Linked DNA regions of Homo sapiens. The main gene of each other region encodes a partner of the protein of the gene in region 2 in a complex. Each region holds a gene or a part of one and is shown on either strand. Other genes may lie near its edges. The genes, in order: KIF13B and ADAP1.

What was found.
Region 1: the proteins of ADAP1 (region 2) and KIF13B are in contact, whole or in part, in a crystal structure (PDB 3MDB), measured with the Homo sapiens proteins. Residues at the interface, in NP_006860.2 of Homo sapiens: Trp137, Asn143, Gly144, Gln145, Phe146, Leu147, Pro186, Ala187, Lys188, Ile189, Gly190, His191, Pro192, His193, Tyr211, Glu213; in NP_056069.2 of Homo sapiens: Val451, Asn452, Leu453, Asn454, Ala455, Asp456, Pro457, Leu463, Arg512, Phe514, Asn516, Gly517, Arg531, Leu533, Asn536, Asn537, Phe539.

What each region holds. Positions count from the first base shown.
Region 1 is NC_000008.11:29,258,267-29,268,312, forward strand, and holds the start of KIF13B (kinesin-like protein KIF13B), read right to left. Parts: upstream 4,805-10,046; 5' UTR 4,769-4,804; coding exon 4,714-4,768; intron 1-4,713. UniProt on the Homo sapiens protein: Involved in reorganization of the cortical cytoskeleton. Regulates axon formation by promoting the formation of extra axons. May be functionally important for the intracellular trafficking of MAGUKs and associated protein complexes.
Region 2 is NC_000007.14:929,005-939,136, reverse strand, and holds part of ADAP1 (arf-GAP with dual PH domain-containing protein 1), read left to right. Parts: intron 1-3,631; coding exon 3,632-3,762; intron 3,763-10,132. UniProt on the Homo sapiens protein: GTPase-activating protein for the ADP ribosylation factor family. Binds phosphatidylinositol 3,4,5-trisphosphate (PtdInsP3) and inositol 1,3,4,5-tetrakisphosphate (InsP4). Regulates the incorporation of CD63 and CD9 into multivesicular bodies.

The DNA.
Region 1 (10,046 bases), on a different chromosome or scaffold from region 2:
GCTGCTTAATTTTGACCGACTTCCTTATGCTTCCCATTCACAAGGCTTCATTTTCAGCAAGCGCTTTTAAATCCTGCCCAGCTATGCCAGAAATCGGTCATCTACTGAAGCTTCCAATCTTGCTTTGGGATCTAGCAATCTTTCCCCGTTGTGTTTGTGTCCAAGCCCCATACAAGGTCCCAAGAAGCAAAACAGAGTGCGTGGACCAGCCACCCTAGGTCCGGACTTCTGGCCTGGCTGCTTTCAGGGCTTCCTGCAATCCACCTGACCTTTCCTGTCCCATCATTCTCTAGCTATCCTCACAGAATCTCCATTCTGGCAGGCAGATCTCATCTCTGCTGCCTAAACCTGCTTTACTCATTCTAGTCTCTGTGTCCTCACTCTCAGGCCATACTTCCTCCTCAAAGAATACATGCCATCCCCTCTCCCGTGCTCACATCATAAGCTTCCTCCCTGGAAGTCCAACCAAAGTTCACCCTCCTCAGTGAAGTCTAAACTCCTCTCGATTCCCTTATTTCCCTGTCATTCACCTGGCACTTAGTAACTAGCAGCCTGCTACAGCTGTTTACCTTTTAATCTAATCTTTTCACAGGCATTTTCTTTTCAAGCCCATGACAGTCATTTCCTCACAGGCATGAACCATAAAGCATGCTTTAAGAAACTGAATATGATGGTAACAGGCAACCCTAAGAAAACTTTTAGGAAGTAAAATCCCCCTAACAAGAACAATCAATTTCACTTTTTCATGTTTCTTTCTAGCTCTTGCCCATTCCTGTATACATTTTTACATAGTAATAATAATAGATTTGATCAGTTACACGTACAGCTTTACATTCTTTTTCCACTAACAGAGAAAACGATCTTCCTTGTTAAATGGTTTTGACTGTCATCATTTTAATCGCTGTATAATAGTCCCTCCATTGAGATACTAGATCATGATTACCAAGGCACTGACTCTACATTGACTCTATTAGACATTATTACATACTTCTGTGTCTTTCACCACATCAAGTATTGGAAAATGCCAAGTAAACTCATTTGAAATATCTCCTGAAATAAATTTCTTGTCCATTCTCCCTAACACCTGAAATAATCTATTTCACTGTTTCTATCTTCATTTCTTTCGTTTCCCGGTTCTACCCCCTTAGGCTAGGTAGGTAACAAAGGTATTCCAAACACCTTTTATAGATATTTACTTATTTTGGTAGTTGATCTTATACAGATTTACACACAGGAAATCCCTTGAGGAAAAGCATTAAGATCTCATCCTATCTAATATAAGCCAGATACCTGGCAGGCACTCAATCAATGTTTGCTTACCTATTAAATGTTTTTTAAGCCACCTAAAGTTAGAAAACATCAAATTCCTGGAAAGGAGAATGTTGCTGATCTAACTAATCCCACCAATTACGGCTACAGAACTTTCAGCTCCTGTAATGATTAGACGGGTTAATAATGTATGAATGGGTGTTCTGTGCGGCACATGGAAGCACACAAGAATTATCTGTTTAGCTGTACAGTCTGAACAACAACACTGGAAAACAAACGATATCTGCAAATAGAACTTGAAGATCTTGTGACAAAAATTTACCCTTTTCTCTAGTTGTTTAGCTTTGCATCTCAGATGAAGAAAGGCAAAATAAAGGTTGTAATATTAAAATTATGTAAAATTACATACACGTGTGAGCACAAACTGGCATGGAAATGAAAAGCTGTTAGGATGAAGAAAGTATGTGAACTTTTTTCTTTTTCTTTTTCCTTTTGTTAGTGGAATGTTAAAATAAATGTATGACTAGACAAATATTTCTGACAAATTAGCCATTACAACTCTTCCTGTTACTGAATTAGGGCCTAATGCTTAACCTTCAAATAACTAAGGTTCCCAAACCCACATACAGTTTAGCAGAAAGACTAAAATACTCTCACTTCGAGGATAACTGTTAAATAATAAATCAGCTAACCACCTTAAAACTCCAAACACCTAAGCACAACCACTGAATCACACAAGAACTTAATACACCAGAGTTTTCTGGAAATTTTCAGATTTTCCTCAAAAGATAGCTAATGTGATTCCAAATATCAGAGTCTACACAGTAAAACTACATCATCACAGTAACCCATTCTCATCCCCGTCCTCTTTTATAGATAGCGATTTATAAGGTTGCTTCCGGCACCTATATGATAGAAACTATTAGGACTCAAGTTTTACTCTTTGTCATAATTATACAGTATTACATAATACTAATAACTGTTCAAAGTAATATTCTTTTCAAAATTACTGGAAAGGTTCCTACAGATCATACAAGGAAGAAAAAAAAGGAAATTACTGGAAAGAAATATGGTTTTGTTTTAGTCTTTTTTTTTTTTGAGACAGAGTTTCACTCTTGTCGCCCAGGGTGGAGCACAGTGGCACGATCTTGGCTCACTGCAACCTCCGCCTCCTGGGTTCAGGCTATTCTCCCGCCTCAGCCTCCTTAGTAGCTGGGATTACAGGCGTCCACCACCACGCCCGGCTAATTTTTTGTATTTTTAGTAGAGACAGGGTTTTGCCATGTTAGGCAGGCTGGTCTCGAACTCCTGACCTCAGGTGATCCACCCGCCTCGGCCTCCCAAAGTGCTGGGATTATAAGCGTAAGCCACCGTGCCTGGCCTGTTTTAGTCTTTTTATACAAACTTTGGACACCAATTTTTAAAAATCACTGGATTTACAATCCCACCACACTGTATTCCATAATAACCTTTATATTTATGTGAACAATTACTTCATAACAAAAATGGAAAAGAACAAATTTATGTGTGGTAATCACTGAAAAAAGAAGTCCACATGCACGTCAGGAAATATAAGGCTAAGAATGGGCACTAAGTGAACACAGGAGGTACTTTACACCAAATAATGCACTTCTCTATATAGGCTAATGGAATCTATGGGTAAACCTCAATTTCAAAATGATTGTTGAACCCAAGGATCAGCTCACATCCGTTCCACAGCTAAAACTATTATTCTTTGCCTTCCTCTAAACTCTGATGTTTATTACAACCTTATCAATGGCAATTTATAAGAGAAAAGCATAAGAATTTCCCTCAAAAAGTGAAACCAATGGGGAAAGGGAGAGGGAAAGGGCTCTAAATATCTGAGATGTCTTTTGTGGTGGTTGGTTAGCGGCCTCTTTTTAGCACTGACATTTCCAAGTTTTTTGTGAAAAGGAAATTTTAAGAATGTGCTGAAACCATCCTTTCAGAATCAATTCCCAGATAAGTTATGTTTCATTTGGCTTCTTTCTTTAAATTATTGTGATGGTAAACTGGAAGTAAACTGAAATACAGATACCTGAATATTTAAAAACTGATGCTTCTGAAAATTTTCAGAATTGTATCGACGTTTATTGTGTGTTGTCAGAGCACGAGATTAGTGAAGCAAAGCAGGACTCAATCTTGCACTAGTTGAGAACTTAAAGTAATTAAGTTCTTAGGGAAAAAAACTCACCTGACAGCTTTAATCGGACCTAGCAGGAACAGGACAAAACAATTCCCATAGATGAGATAACTCCAAGCGAGAAACCAATTTCCCCGAGAAGGACAAACCAACAAAGCTTATGTCAACTGGTTGATCTGTATGTCTCAATATATACAAAAGAAAGCAAAGAAGAGGAAAACAACCTATAATTTCTACATAAAAATTAAACAACACTTGATTTTGCTAAGAAGCTACAACTTTGTCTCTGGTACTTAAATGATTCTAATTAGTTCAAAGTCTCATCAATGGCAAAGTCATCTCCTGAGACAGTAATAGTGACCCCCAATGACAGGACCTTGTATATAAAGCGTTTTCAAACACATTATCTTATTTAAAGCAACTCACCCAGTCATGCTGCTTTGACTATCAAAGCCAAGACCCAGCCCACCTCCTCCCCTGACTTTTGGGGTTCTCTCCACTCCCCGGGTCTACAGATTATTTAAATGTACTCGGTTTATCTGCCTTCTCTACACTCCCTGCAGAGTTAAGAGAATGTCAGAAAGATACAATTCCACAAGAATCTTGGCACTTTAGCTATTTATTGAGAGATGATGAATGAGACTTCAGGCAAAACCAAAACTTTCTCAACTGTCCAAAAACAACGAAAAGGGCATCTCCTCCACCTGACCCCAATCTCAGGACGCCCAGGTGGAAGGAACTCGCCGCGGGGCACCCGCCTGGCCCCCTGCCCTTCTTCCCGCCGCGGGCCAAGGCGGTGCAGGCTTGGGCGACCCGGGCGAGACGCGGGGTCCCGGGGGGTCCCGGGCGGTCCCGAGGCGGGCTGCAGGGGCTGGCGACCCGCGCGCGGGGGCGACGATGACAGCTGGCGGGGAAGGAGCGAGGCTGAGGGGCCAGGACGAGGCTGGGCGCGAGGGCCGAGGGCGCCCTCGGGAACCTCCGGGGGAGACGAGAGGGCAAAAGGGCGCAGGGGCGGGGCGGGCGCAGGCGGAAGGGGCAGCGGGGCCGGCACGAGGGGCCCGACGGCGCCAGGGACGGGGCTGGCCAGGGGGGAAGGGAGGGGAGAAGAGGGAGCCGGGCGTCTCAGCGCGGGAGCGGGTTTCAGGGTCCCCGGGCCCCTCCTCGCGCCCCGCCGCTGACTATAGGGGCGGGGCCGCCGGACCCCCCACGGCGGCCGAGGGAAGGGCGCGCCAGGCACCTGCCGCCTCCGCCCCGGCGGCCCAGGAGGGCTCGGCTCTCACCTCGCCGGTTCATGGGTCGTATCCGCACCGCCACTTTCACTTTGGAGTCCCCCATCCTGCAGCCGCCGAGGAACTCGTTCGGCTTCCGTCTGCCGCGGCCACCGGCGACTCTTCGGGGTTGACCCGGCGGGAGGGGGCCGGGGGCGGAGCCGGGGGTGGGGACCGGGCTGGGGGCGGGGCCGGCGCGAGCTCCGGGCGCTCCCCGCTGTATGGCGGGACTTGTAGTTCCCCAGGGTCGTCGTGGGCGGGGCCGCAGCGAAGGCGGGGGCGGGAATGCTCGGGCGCGAGTCGTTTGCTACAACTTACCTACAGCAATGACGGCTTTTGTAAATTACACACCATTCTTGCTCTCGCAGCCAGTATTGAGAAGTAAGCCTTCAAGAGCTGATACCTCTTCTGAAAAACAATTGAATAGATGGCGTCAGGGACCCCGCTACCTCTTCCTGCTCATTTCCTGCCAATCTTAGTGTTTGATCCCTGGCTCAAGTTATTTCCTCTGCCTGGATTGACGTCCGGCCTTGTTTGCTGAGCTCGTCCTTCACGACAAGTTGCAAATCACGTTTTCTGGGAGTGTCCATAGGTCCACGGGTTAACATTGTCCTGTGAGTCCCCCTCCTTTGAGACAGGACCTTGGGCTCTGAAAACCATCTGAGTTCAAAGCCCACCTCAGCGCTTCCCACTGTGTGACCAGGGGCAAGTTATTTGACCGCTCTGGGCTTGTCTTTAATATGAAAAGTGGATATGATACTAATACCTAGTAAAATAGGTACATTTTTAAATAAGATTAACATATGTGTAACCTAGCCTTTAGTAGAGACCCATAAACATTAATTGCATGAATTAATGAATGAGGCCACACTAAAATTAGCTTTTTATTAGCCCTGGCAGACATTCTAACAGGTGGCCTGGGTGCCAGAGCCAGCACGCAAACATGTTCTGTTTGGCCCAACAGTGTTGGCCAACACATAAAAATCAGATTTGTGGCCAGGTGCAGGGGCTCACACCTGGAATCCCAGCATTTTAGGATGCTGAGGCAGGAGGATTGCTTGAGGCCAGGAGTTTGAGACCAGCTTGGGTAACAGAGTGTGAAATCAGATTTGTGCATGCAGTACTGGGCCTACATTACATATTGGACAGAGTGGATTGGAACTAAATAGCAGCAGCCACCTTTATCAGAGACCCGTCTCTCCACTTCACCACGGCCCCCCTCCAGGTGGCTTTACCACACATGCGCCTGGACCTTGTGGGTTTGTGACCCCTGCTTAGATGTGTTTAAATGATAGTAATAGAACTCAGAACCATTTTACAGATGAGTAAATACAGAAAGCTGGTAAGACTTGCCCTTTTACCAACCATCCTGTTATTGAGTATCTTCAATACAAGCAATGTTGTCAAAAAGTATAAAAATACTTTTTTTTTTTTGAGATGGATCTAGCTCTGTCACCCAGGCTGGAGTACAGTGGCATGATCTCGGCTCACTGCAACCTCCACCTCCTGGCTTCAAGCGACTCTCATGCCTCAACCTCGACAGTAGCTGGGATTACAGGCATGTGCCACCAATCCTGGCTAATTTTCATATTTTTAGTAGAGACGTAGTTTTGCCATGTTGACCAGGCTGGTCTCGAACTCCTGACCTCAGGTGATCCACCCACCTCAGTCTCCCAAAGTGCTGGGATTACAGGCATAAGCCACTGTGTCCGGTCTAAAAATACCTTTAAAAGAAAGGAAATTCTGAAACATGCTGCAACATGGATGATGGGCCTTGAAAACATTATGCTAGGTGAAATAAGCCAGACACAAAAGAACAACCACTGCATGGTTCTACATATATGAGATACACATGGTAGTCAAATTCATGGAGATAGAAAGTAGACTGGAGGTTACTAAGGGCTAGGAGAAGGGGGTATGAGGAGTTAGTATTCAATGGGTGCAGAGATTCGGCTTGGGAAGATTTCAGCTGCGGAAATGAATGGTGGTGATGGTTGCACAACAATGTAAATGTACTTAACGCCACCTAACCACTTAAGAGTGGTTAAGGCAGTAAGGTTTTTTGGGTTTTTTTAGAGACAGGATCTCGCTCTGTTTGCCCAGACTGGAGTGCAGTGGTGTGATCATAGCTCACTGCAGCCTCAAACTCCTGGGCTCAAGCGATTTTCCTGCTTCAGCCTCTCACCTAGATGGAATTACAGGTACGCACCACGACACCTAGCTAATTTTTATATTTCATTTTTTGGTAGAGATGGAGTCTCGCTATGTTGTCCAGGCTGGTCTTGAACTCTTGGCCTCAAGTAATCCTCCTCACTTCAGCCTCCCAAAGCACTAGGATTACAGGTGTGAGCCATTACACCCAGCCAAGATGGTAAGCTTTTTGTTGTTGTTTGTTTGTTTGTTTGAGATGGAGTCTTGCTCTGTCGCCCAGGCTGGAATGCAGTGAGTGACATGATCTCTGCTCACTGCAGTCTCTGCCTCCTGGGTTCAAGTGATTCTCCTGCCTCAGCCTCCAGAGTGACTGGGATTACAGGTGTGCACCATCACACACAGCTAATTTTTATATTTTTAATAGAGATGGGGATTCACCATGTTGGCCAGGCTGGTCTCAAACTCTTGACCTCAAGTGATCCACCCACCTCAGCCCCCCCAAAATGCTGGGATTACAGGTGTGAGCCACTGTGCCTGGCCAATAGTAAGTTTTATGTTACGTGTTTTTTATCAAAATTTCAAAAAAGGTTAAAAATAGAAAATGCTACCCCAGAAGGCCCTCTTTTTTAAAAAAGGAAATTTCTTTCTTAGGGGCACTGCCTCTGCACTTCAGGAGGTCTCATCTAGACCAGCAGTGGGTTTAGTGCAGCAGGTCCTTTGATTTTCACAGCCCAATAAAGTAAACAACATCAGGATAACCAAATTAGGATTGCCAATCTCAGTGTTTGACACTATGACAGCTTCTTAATTTTAGCAAGTATATATTTTTTTGAGACAGGGTCTCATTCTGTGCCCAGGCTGGAGTGCAGTGGCACCATCTTAGCTCACTGCAGCCTCAACCTCCCAGGCTCAAGCGATCCTCCCACCTTAGCCTCCCAAGTAGCTGGGACTACAAGCATGCACCACCATGCCCAGCTGATTTTTAAATTTTTTGTAGAAACAGTGTCTCGCTATGTTACCCACTCTGGTCTTGAACCCATGACCTCAAGTGATCCTCCCACCTCAGCCTCCCAAAGTGTTGGAATTACAGGTGTGAGCCATTGTGCTAGGTCACCGAGTAAATTATTTGAAAAAGAATGCACACAAAAATTACTATCTACCATCACTATCTTTTTTTTTTTTTAAAAAAGATCATAAAGGGTATGATTTTATATTGAAATTGTTTTGCCCTACTGTTCTTTTGCTCTTATTTAGTGTTGAAGTCACCTTTGCCATGGCCCCAGACTGGTTACCACAGGTTGGTACTCTTGTCTTAAACACACATCCTAATTACCACCTCCCTACATTCAGGTTATAAAAAATAAGGATTTGGAATGTCCCAAGATTCCATACGTCACTTTATATCTCTTTTATAACCAGGTAAATTTAATTTTTAAATGGCACGTCCTGGTGCTAGCTTGAATCTGGCTTTTTAAACAGAGTCAAAGCAGGCAGAAAAAGAGAACAAGAGAACATTTCTATGGAAATATTGTGTTTAAACTTAAGCTGAAACTGAAAAGAGAGGAAAGCCCCTAAGGACCTCAAGGAAGGGAAGAATAGAATAGAGAAGAAGTGAGGACTTTCTCTAAAGTCCTCAAAACCATTTAAAATGTTCTGAAAATATTTAGAGGAAAAGGACAGTAGCCTCCCTAGGGACTGCAGGGAAGAACCCCTGTGAGCTGTTTCCCCTTTTGACTTCTGTTCATACTACTCTGTCTCCTTTGACTTTTGCAGTGAAGATGATTCTTAAAAGAGAGCCCAGCCAGGCGCGGTGGCTCACGCCTGTAATCCCAGCACTTTGGGAGGCCGAGGCGGGTGGATCACAAGGTCAGGAGATGGAGACCATCCTGGCTAACACAGCGAAACCCCGTTTCTACTAAAAATACAAAAAAAATTTGCTGGGCGTGGTGGCGGGCACCTGTAGTCCCAGCTACTCCGGAGACTGATGCAGGAGAATGGCGTGAACCTGGGAGGCAGAGCTTGCAGTGAGCTGAGATCGCGCCACTGCATTACAGCCTGGGCGACAAAGTGAGACTCCGTCTTCTAAAAAAGAAAAGAAAAGAAAAAGAAAAAAAGAGAGAGAGCCCAAGACTAGAAATGCCCATATCTTCCCATGGAAAGTGTTCCTCTGATAGGCGGGAGACAGAGGACCAAATTGCAAGTTACAACCTGCAGCCTGGGAGTTTCAGGGGCTTCAACACCAAATGAAATTGGAGAACTATCAACAGGATTCAGGGTTCAGCACAGGCTCCAGCAAGACAGAGAGAAAAGTCCTGGTTTTTCTCTCTCTCTTTTTTCTCTTTTTTTTTTTTTTTTCCGAGACAGGGTCTCGCCCTGTCGCCCAGGCTGGAATGCAGTGGCACAGTCTCGGCTCACTGCAACCTCCTCCTCCTGGGCTCAAGTGATTCTTCTGCCTCAGCCTCCCGAGTAGCTGGGATCACAGGCGCCCACGACCATGCCCGGCTAATTTTTGTAGTTCTAGTGGAGACGGGGTTTCGCCATGTTGGTCAGGCTGGTCTCAAACTCGCCACCTCAGGTGATCCGCCCACCTCGGTTTCCCAGGGTACTGGGATGACAGGTGTGATCCACTGCACCTGGCCAGTTTCTCTCTTTTCAACTATTAGAGGAAAAAGAAACAAAGAACTAGTAAATAAGGCATTCCCTTGTACCTGTTTCTTAAAGCAAGTACTTAGGAAATCAACAAGTATTTATGGTGTAGATTCTATAGCCATTTTGATAGAGCTGTTGAATTTTAGCTGTGCAGATAAGGAGTTTCTCATTTTTTGCCCTCACATTTTGCAAATCTGCTCATTCCTAAACTGATTTCTAGTTTTCTTTTTATGGCTTTGATCTACCCATTCAGTAGTTTCTGATGGTCCCTTCATAGGCTATAGAAGTCACTTTGTCCTATCTTTTTTTTTTTGAGATGGAGTCTTGCTGTGTCACGATTTCCCTGCTTGCCTGAGACCTACCTTTGTGAGAGCACTTAGTTTTCCCAATTATAAGCATACCTTCATCTGCCTCCCCAGCTACGCTGTGCTACTGTGTGCTCTTTGAGCCTGGATAAAGTGTCTTTTGTTTTTGAGACAGGGTCTCGCTCTGTTGCCCAGGCTGGAGTACAGTGGCACAATCATGGCTCATTGCAGCCTCAAACT
Region 2 (10,132 bases):
TGGGCATGGCTGAGTTCCAGTAACACCTTATTTACAACAACAGGCAGCTGGTCCACGCCGTAGAGTCCAGCTCCTGCTACGGGTTCCATGAACAGGCCTCCTTCCAGGCCCAGCTCCCTGGGTTCTGTGAACAGGCCTCCTTCCAGGCCAGGAGAGGGACAGCCTGTCCCGGAGCACCCGAGTGAGGTTGGAGGTGGGCACAGGCATTCTGGACCCTGGGCTGGGCGGGAGCTGTTGGTGGCCGTTGCTCAGCCTCCCTCAGAATTTCTAGATGGGCAGATAAAGGCCATGAGACAGGAAGCCTGGGTCCGTGGTCCACACTGTCGGAGCAGAACCAACAGCATTGCCATGCGGTGAGAAGGAGGGCCCCCCACTGCACCCCGAGCGGTGATGTTCCCAGCTGGGCTCATGTTGCCTGCTACCCCTGTAAGTGGCTCGTGCTGTCCCATCCGACAGATGAGGAGACCGAGGCCCGGAGACTGGCGTGCCTTCTGGGCGCCCCTCGCACAGCCACGTACCGAGCATTTGCGGCATCTTTCACCAAGGCTTCGGGAGAAGACGGAGCCCGGGGGGAGTCAGGTCTCTCTCTTCTGGGACTTCAGTGTGGTTCTTCCCCACCTGTTCTCCAGGGGTGTGTGTAACTAAATACTTTGCAGGCCAGACACGGCGTCACACATCTGTAATCCCAACACTTTAGGAGGCCAAGACAGGAGGATCGCTTGAGCCCAGGAGTTCAAGCCCAAGCTGGGCAACATAGAGAGACTTCATCTCTACCAAAAATTTTAAAAATTAGCTGGGTATGCTGGTGCATGCCTGCGGTCCCAGCTACTTGGAAGGCTGAGGCAGGAGGATCGCTTGAGCCCAGGCGTTGGAGGCTGCAGTGAGCTGTGAGCTGTGATTGCACCACTGCACTCCACCTTGGGCAACAGGGCAAGACCCTGTCTCAAAACAAAACAATACAATACAAGACAAAAAAAACCCCGCAAAACCAAACAACGGCTGATCCTGTAACCGCATTCTTTCTCCCAAAAGCCGCCCTACTCAGCACAGGCAAAACTCCTGGTACCCGAGACAGGGTCACTTGGGCAAATGTTTGACTGACTGAGGGGTGAGGAGAAAGCCTGTGGTCTCTCTCGAAGACAGGGGCTCTGCTGAAGTAGGGCTGTTAGTGGCCCCTTCATTCATGACTCCCGTGGAGACCTGCTCCGGACTGAGCTCTGTGCCAGATCCGGGGGTGCTGGGTCTGGGGTCCTCAAGAAGCCCACGTTAATGGGGAGACAGGCTTCATTAATCAGGGAGCCTAACAGCTGTGACAGAAAACCCCCAAATCCCAGAGGCCGGGCATGACCCCCAAATCCCAGATGTGCAGCGTGACCCCCAAATCCCAGAGGCCGGGCATGACCCCCAAATCCCAGAGGTCGGGCATGACCCCCAAATCCCAGAGGCCGGGCATGACCCCCAAATCCCAGAGGCCGGGCATGACCCCCAAATCCCAGAGGTCGGGCGTGACCCCCAAATCCCAGAGGCCGGGCGTGACCCCCAAATCCCAGAGGTCGGGCGTGACCCCCAAATCCCAGAGGCCGGGCGTGACCCCCAAATCCCAGAGGTCGGGCATGACCTCCAAATCCCAGAGGCCGGGCATGACCTCCAAATCCCAGAGGCCGGGCATGACCCCCAAATCCCAAAGGTCGGGCGTGACCCCCAAATCCCAGAGGCCGGGCGTGACCCCCAAATCCCAGAGGTCGGGCGTGACCCCCAAATCCCAGAGGCCCGGCGTGACCCCCAAATCCCAGATGTGCAGCGTGACCCCCAAATCCCAGAGGCCAGGCATGACCCCCAAATCCCAGAGGCCAGGCATGACCCCCAAATCCCAGAGGTCGGGCGTGACCCCCAAATCCCAGAGGCCGGGCGTGACCCCCAAATCCCAGAGGTCGGGCGTGACCCCCAAATCCCAGAGGTCGGGCGTGACCCCCAAATCCCAGAGGCCGGGCGTGACCCCCAAATCCCAGAGGTCGGGCGTGACCCCCAAATCCGAGGCCCGGCGTGACCCCCAAATCCCAGAGGCCGGGCATGACCCCCAAATCCGAGGTTCAGCCTGCTGGTTCTCACGCACCATCCCCGGCCGGGGGCTCACTTGGGTGCCTCTCCTCCTGGCAGTGACTCAGAGCCCAGGCCCAGCCCCAGCCCCACTGGGCCTCCGCCGCCTGGCATGGGAGTCCCCCACCAGCCAGGGGTGGGCCCCGATCAGCGTTGGGAGGGGGGCTATCCTCCGCCAGGCCTGAAGGGTGGGGTCCTCTCCACTCATGATTCCCCAAACAGGCTTGGGTCCACAGCCGCACCTGCTTGTGGGGAAGCGCCTCGATTTCCACCAGCCTCACCCAGGAGAGCCTCCACTTAAAAATAAAAGCAGTTCAGAGATGACTCATCTCCCCCAGAGAGACTGTTCTCTCTAGGGTGCCTTTCAGCCATTCCACTCCCTTGACTTATTGTGAAGGGTCGTTGGGAGCCAGAAGAAAACAGGAGAGTCACACAGCAGCCCTCTTAGCCATCGCCCCAGGGCGGGGCTGGACGCTCCCCACATTTTGCCGTTTCAGAATGAGACATTTCACACGTGCAGCAGCAGAAAGACTGCGCTGTGGCACCCACACCCTGGGCAGTGGCTCACGCCTGTCATCCCAGCACTTTGGGAGGCCGAGCAGGTGGATTACTTGAGGTCAAGAGTTCGAGGCCAGCCTGGCCAACATGATGAAACCCCATCTCCACTAAAAATACAAAAGTTAGCCGGGCATGGTGGTGCGTGCCTCGCTACTCGGGAGGCTAAGGCAGGAGAATCGCTTGAACCCGGGAGGCAGAGGTTGCAGCGAGCCGAGATCGTGCCATCATACTCCAGCCTGGGCAACAGACTATGTCTCAAAAAAAATTCTGCTCCCTCAGCCTCCCAAAGCGCTGGGATTACGGGCCTGAGCCACTGTGTCCAGCTTTGTTGGACCTTTTAAGGCAAACCAGACATCGAGACGTGGAATCCCTAGACAGGCCACATGCAGGGTGAAGCCACAGCGCCGCTGTCACACCTGCAAAGTTAGTGGCCGCCGGGCGCTGTCACCCCACGCAGGGTGCGTCGTCATCCGCGGCTACCATCCGTCCTTCGGGGGTGTGCAGCGCGTTGGGTGTGAGGCACCCCCTGCACTCAGATCCTATCTGAATTTCCCAATCTTGGCCCCATCACCCAGGAGGATTCGGGCCCACAGACTTCTCCCAGGGCAGCGGACACGAGGAAAGCAGGTGGACCCATCCTCACGAGTGCCGGGTGCCCTCCAGCCCGGGGCATGGGCTCCTGTGGGGCCGGCCTCTGCTGGAGGTTCCCGGCACCCGCGGGGCAGAGCAGGTGCATGCAGATCGGCTTCCTCAGATGCCGTGGGGTGTCTGGGGAGAGCCCCGTCTGCACCGGGCAGAGGGCGGGGGGGGAGCTGGGGTTAGGTGCCTGTGGGGCGCACGGAGCCTGGTGTACCCGGGGGTCTCCGCTGAAGCCCCCCCCACTGCATGGCCGGGGGCTCCTGACTCGAGGCTCCGTCCACCCTCCCTCCGGGGTCCCTGGGCTGAGCCTCCGTGAACGTCCGGCTTTCCCTTGCAGATCCCGACTGGGCCTCCTACACTCTGGGCGTCTTCATCTGCCTGAGCTGCTCGGGAATCCACCGGAATATCCCCCAGGTCAGCAAGGTGAAGTCCGTCCGCCTGGACGCCTGGGAGGAGGCCCAAGTGGAGGTACGGAGGGGGAGGGGCGGGGGGACCCGCGCAGTCCCCGGGTGGCCTCAGCCCGGGCCTCTGGAGCCAGAGATGCCGGGCGGCCTGGCTGTGGCCCCTGGAGCCTTGGGCTACTCTGGGGGCCTGGCTGGCTGGACCCGAGGACCCCGCCCCCTCTCCAGCGGCTCCGCCTGTGTGGCTGCTCCACCCACCCCGTGCCGGGTCCAACCTCTCTGTGAGCAGCTCCAGGTGTGTGTGGTGGGCCAGGGAGCGAAGGCGGGTCGCCGATTCCCGTGCCCTGGGAGCTCCGGAGTGCTCCCCTCAAATCCCCACACCTGGAGCACTGGGCTCAGGGTAAAAGAGACCCTGTCTCTAAGGAAACAGAATGCAGCGTCCCAGGCCGCGCGGCACGACCCAGAGTCAGGGTCGCATTTACACGGCAGTCCACGTGCACCCCGGCCCGCTGCCGTGTAGGGCACCATTACCTGTCCCCTGGGCGGCCTCTGAGGTGACACAGCCACTGCCCACCTCTCACCCATGCATCTGATGAGGCTTCACGGAGCACTTGGCATGGCCAGGCAGGGACACCAGCCACAGATGCTTCGTGGGGCCCTAGAGACGCCCCTATGGGGAGGGAGACGGGTGTGAGCCAACCAGGAAGCCCTGGCGTGCAGGGAGGGGCCACGCATGCTGGAGGCGGCAGGAAGGGCCCCGTAGGGAGACCCCGAGGGAGGTGGAGAAGGAACAAGACCCCGGCTGGGGGCTGCAGGTCGGATGGAGCGTGGGGCCTGAAGACCCGGTGGGAGGGTCACCCCAGCCCCACTCGTGGGACTTGGGGTCTGGAAGCCATTGATCTTCCTGACTGCTGTGAGTGGGACCGAAGGGCCGCATGGAGGTGAGAGTGGTGGTCTGGGGGCTGCTGTGGGGATGGGGAGGGTCGTAGAGGCTGGTGGCCTCCTGTACATGTCTCTCCCCTCTCCAGCACCATTGACCCTGGGCCCCCCCTCTCCAACACCACTGACTCTGGCACCCCCTCTCCAGGACCACTGATCCCAGCCCCTGGTTCTCCAGCACCACTGACCCCGGCTCCCGGCTCTCCAGCACCACTGACCCCAGTCCCCGGCTCTCCAGCACCACTGACCCCGGTCCCCGGCTCTGCACCACCACTGACCCCGGCCCCCGGCTCTCCAGCACCACTGACCCCGGCCCCCGGCTCTCCAGCACCACTGACCCCGGTCCCCGGCTCTGCACCACCACTGACCCCGGCCCCCGGCTCTCCAGCACCACTGACCCCGGCTCCCGGCTCTCCAGCACCACTGACCCCAGTCCCCGGCTCTCCAGCACCACTGACCCCGGTCCCCGGCTCTGCACCACCACTGACCCCGGCCCCCGGCTCTCCAGCACCACTGACCCCGGCCCCCGGCTCTCCAGCACCACTGACCCCGGTCCCCGGCTCTGCACCACCACTGACCCCGGCCCCCGGCTCTCCAGCACCACTGACCCCGGTCCCCGGCTCTCCAGCACCACTGACCCCGGTCCCCGGCTCTGCACCACCACTGACCCCGGTCCCCGGCTCTGCACCACCACTGACCCCGGCCCCCGGCTCTCCAGCACCACTGACCCCGGTCCCCGGCTCTCCAGCACCACTGACCCCGGTCCCCGGCTCTGCACCACCACTGACCCCGGCCCCCGGCTCTCCAGCACCACTGACCCCGGCCCCCGGCTCTCCAGCACCACTGACCCCGGCCCCCGGCTCTCCAGCACCACTGACCCCGGTCCCCGGCTCTCCAGCACCACTGACCCCGGTCCCCGGCTCTGCACCACCACTGACCCCGGCCCCCGGCTCTCCAGCACCACTGACCCCGGCCCCCGGCCCCCGGCTCTCCAGCACCACTGACCCCGGCCCCCGGCTCTCCAGCACCACTGACCCCTGCCCCTGGTTGGGAGTAGCTCATTTGCTTCTAACAGGCAGCCTTGGTGCATGGGTCACACCTGGAGGCTTGTTAGAAATCACAGCTGGGATCCCAGTGCCTCGACCAGGTGTGGGGGTGGTGCCTGTAATCCCAGCCACTCAGGAGGCTGAGGCAGGAGGATTGTTTGAGCCCAGGAATTCTTTTTTTTTTTTGAGACGGAGTCTGGCTTCGTCGCCCAGGCTGGAGTGCAGTAGCATGATCTCGGCTCACTGCAAGCTCCACCTCCCGGGCTCAAGCAATTCTCCTGCCTCAGCCTCCCGAGTGGCTGGGATTGCAGGTGCACGCCACCACGCCCGGCTAATTTTCGTATTTTTAGTAGAGAAGGGTTTCACCATGTTGGCAAGGCTGGTCTTGAACTCCTGACCGCAGGTGATCCACCCACCTCAGCCTCCCGAAGTGCTGGGATGACAGGCGTGAGCCACCATGCCTGGCTGAGCCAAGGAATTCGAGGCTGCAGTGAGTTGTGATTGCACCTTTGTGCTCCAGCCTGGGAGACAGAAAAAGACCCAAGGACAGCAGAGTCCCTGACCCACCCAGGGCGACCCCAAATCAGCTTCTGCACTTAATGCCGTGATCCCCCACACCCTGAGTTGAGGGCGTCCCTGCGAATCCCCTCAGGACCCCGGCCCACCTTGGGCTCACCGCCTTCGACCCACCTTCACTGACCTGGGTGGGGGACACTGGGATGTGATATCCGTCCCTTCGCCCTTCGACCCACCTTCACTGACCCAGGGGGGGACACTGGGATGTGACATCCATCCCTTCGCCAGGCTGTGGGCTTGTCTGAGCCTCCGTTTCCTTCCCTAAAAAATGGGCAGGGTGGCCCCTGGACCATCCCCCTCCCCGGACAACAGGGGACCAATGTCAGAAAGATGATGGGACGGGTGTCCCGTCTCCAAGTTGCTCTGCCATCACTCCTGGAGGAAACAGCCCTGAGTCCCTGGAGGGCCTCCAGGGGCACAGACTCCTTGGCTCGGGGAGAAGACGTGGCTATTGTCCCCATAATTCCAGGGCAAACGGGGCAAGGGCCCAGGGGTGGGGCGTTCACTGTTGTTGGAAAAACCCTAAATGTAATCAGCGGGAGAGGACAGGGGCCAACTTGGTGCTGTCCTGATCTGCCTGGGGTGATGGCCGGAGAGGAAGGCTGGAGAGGAAGGCTGGGGAGGGCCCACCGTGGGTATTACCAAGAAACCCCTGATTCCTGCCGCAGAGGTCTGGTGCGATGGGGCCTTTGGGAGAGCACTGAGCTGGGGGCCACAAGGAGATTCCATCCCCATTCTGTTGTCTGCACGTTCACTGGTGCGATAAAAACCAAAGATGAATCTCAGGCAGGCCTGGGGGCTTGTCTCCTGAGAGCACCTGCACCCCGGCCCCCAGGCAGGGCTGGGTCTCAGCCCGGCTTCTTGCTGGGGACTCTGTGGGGCGGGAGCTGCACTGGGCCCCCCCTGGCTCCCTGCACTCAGGCCCCTTGGCCATTCCTGGGCTGGTGGTCAGCGGGGACATCCGGGGGCTAAGCCTGCTCCCACCCCTAAGGGAGAAACGGGCCTGAGGTGGCCGTTGCTGAGGACCGGACCGAGGTTGAAGGGCCAGGAACCAAAGATTCTTCTCTTCTTTCCTTTTCTTCACATTTTATGTTTTTTTTTTTTTTTCTCCCTACTTTCTATTCCTTGATAATACCTTTTAAAACAACTGCTTCCTAGAGATGCCGTTCACAGCCATACATTTCACCGTGTAAAGGGCACAGTTGAAGGTTTTTTAGTAAATTCAGAGTTGTGCAACCTTCGCTGAAGCCAATATTAGGACATTTTCATCACCCCAGAAAGGAAGTCCGTGCCTTTTGGCTCTTACCCCCGCCCAGCCCAAAGCAGCTGCAAATCCACTTTCTCTCTGTGTAGATTTGTGGGTTCTGGACTTTTAAAAACGGGATCGCACGGCGTGTGAGCTTCGGCGTCCGACTCCTTTCCCGCGGTGCCAGGTCCCCGAGGCCCATCACGCTGCAGCCTGTGTGACAGCTTCGTTCCTTTCAAGGCCGGAGAACATGCCTTGTGTGGATGGAACACGTTTGCTTTATTCATTCACCCTCTGATGGACACGTGGGTCGTCTCTACCTTATTTAATGTATTTCGACAATTTAGTGACACATTCAGCAGTTTCCAAGGACAGTCACAGAAGGGAGCTGTCTCCTTCCCTGTCTCCCACCTTTGAGCACCGTCCCCACCCTGGCCAGGCAGCCAGGGGTCTGTGTGGGCCTCGCTCCCTCCCTCCCTCCTTCCTTCCCTCCTGTCTTCCTTTCTTCCGTCCCTCCCTCTGTCTCTCCGTCCCTCCGTCCTTCCTTCCGTCCTTCCTTCCCTCCTGCCTTCCTTTCTTCCCTCCCTCCCTCCCTCAGTCCCTCCGTCCCTCCCTACCCTCCTTCCTTCCTTCCTTTCTCTTTTTTTTTTTTTTTGAGACACAGTCTGACTCTGTCGCCCAGGCTGGAATGCAGTGGCACTATCATAGCTCACTAAAGCCTTGAACTTTCAGGCTCAAGTGATCCTCTTGCCTCAGCCTCCCAAGGAGTAGCTAGGACCACAGGCATACACCACCGTGCCTGGCTACTTTTTTTTTTTTAGAGACAGTCTCACTGTCTCCCAGGCTGGAGTACAGTGGTGTGATCTCACCTCACTGCAACCTCCACCTCCCACATTCAAGCGATTCTCCTGCTTCAGCCTCCCGAGTAGCTGGGATCACAGGTGTGTGCCACCATGCCCAGCTAATTTTTGTATTTTTAATAGAGACGGGGTTTTGCCATGTTGGCCAGGCTGGCCTTGAACTCTTGGCCTCAGGTGATCCATCCCCCTCGGCCTCCCAAAGTTCTGGGATTACAGACGTGAGCCACCGCGCCAGCCCTGGCTAATTAAAAAAAAAAATTTTGTAGTGATGGGGTCTTGCTATGTTGGCCAGGCTGGTCTCAAACTCCTGACCTCGTGATCCGCCCGCCTTGGCCTCCCAAAGTGCTGGGATTACAGGTGTGAGCCACCGCGCCCGGCCCTGTGTTTTCTTGCCTGTGAACTCTCTTCACACCTTTGCCTGCCTTTCTGCTGCAATGTTAGCTGTTTTCATCTTCTAGGGGTTGCTGGTATGTTAGAGAAATTAATCTGAGATACCAAAAACATTTTTTTCTAGGTTGTCTTTCGAATTTGCTCATGGTGGTTTTTGCCGTGGAAATTTTTACTTCGACATAGTCAAAGTGGTCAGCGTTTTATTTTGTGGTTTTAGGGTCTATAGCATACATAAATAGGCCTTCTCTGCCTGAGGGTTTTTTTTTTTTTTTTTTTTTTTTTTGAGACAGTCTTGCTCTGTCACCCAGGCTGGAGGGCAGTGGCTCAATCACAGCTCAGTGCAGCCTCAAGCTCCTGGGCTCAAACGATCCTCTCACCTCAGCCTCCTGAGTAGATGGAACTACAGACGTGCACCACCACGCCTGGCTAATTTTTGTATTTTTTGTAGAGACGGGGGTCTCACTATGTTGCCCAGGCTGGTCTTGAACTCCTGGCCTCAAGTGATCCTCCCGCCTCAGTCTCCCAAGCGCTGGGATTACAGGCTTCAGCCACCACACCCAACCCTGAAGGTTATTTTTTAATAACAGCTTTGTTGAGGTATAATCCACATACAATTCACTCCCGTAAAGCGTACAGTTCAGTAGTTTTAGTGAAGCCACAGGGCTGCACGACCATCACCACTGTCTAACTTCAGGACATTTTAACGTCCCAACACAGCCGGTACTCACCACCCCTCCCATCACCACCGCCCCAGCCGTTACTGAATGTAGACAGAGCTGCTTTGTGTCTCTGTGGATTTGCTTGTTCTGAACATTTCAAACAGATGGAATCATGCAATACGTGGTCTTGTTTTTTTTTTTTTTTTTTTTTGAGACAGGGTGTCACTATGTTGCTCAAGCTGGTCCCGAACTCCCAGGCTCAAGCGATCCTCCCACCTCAGCCTCCCAAAGTGCTGGGATCACAGGTGTGAGCCACCACGTGCGGCCGATTCGTGGTGTTTTGTGTCTGGTTTCCTCCATGGGCACCGTGTGTCCAAGGATCGCCTGGGTTGTAGCGTGTGTCAGAATTGTGTTGCTCTTTTTTTTTTTTTTTTGAGATGGAGTCTCGCTCTGTCAGCCACGCTGGAGTGCTGTGGCACGATCTCTGCTCACTGCAACCTCTGCCTCCCGGGTTCAAGCGATTCTCCTGCCTCAGCCTCCCGAGTAGCTGGGATTACGGGCGTGCACCACCACGCCCGGCTAATTTTTGTATTTTCAGTAGAGACGGGGTCTCACCGTGTTGCCCAGGCTGGTCTTGAACTCCTGACCTCGTGATCTGCCCACCTCTGCCTCCTGAAGTGCTGGGATGACAGGCGTGAGCCCCCGCGCCCGGCCGGCATTC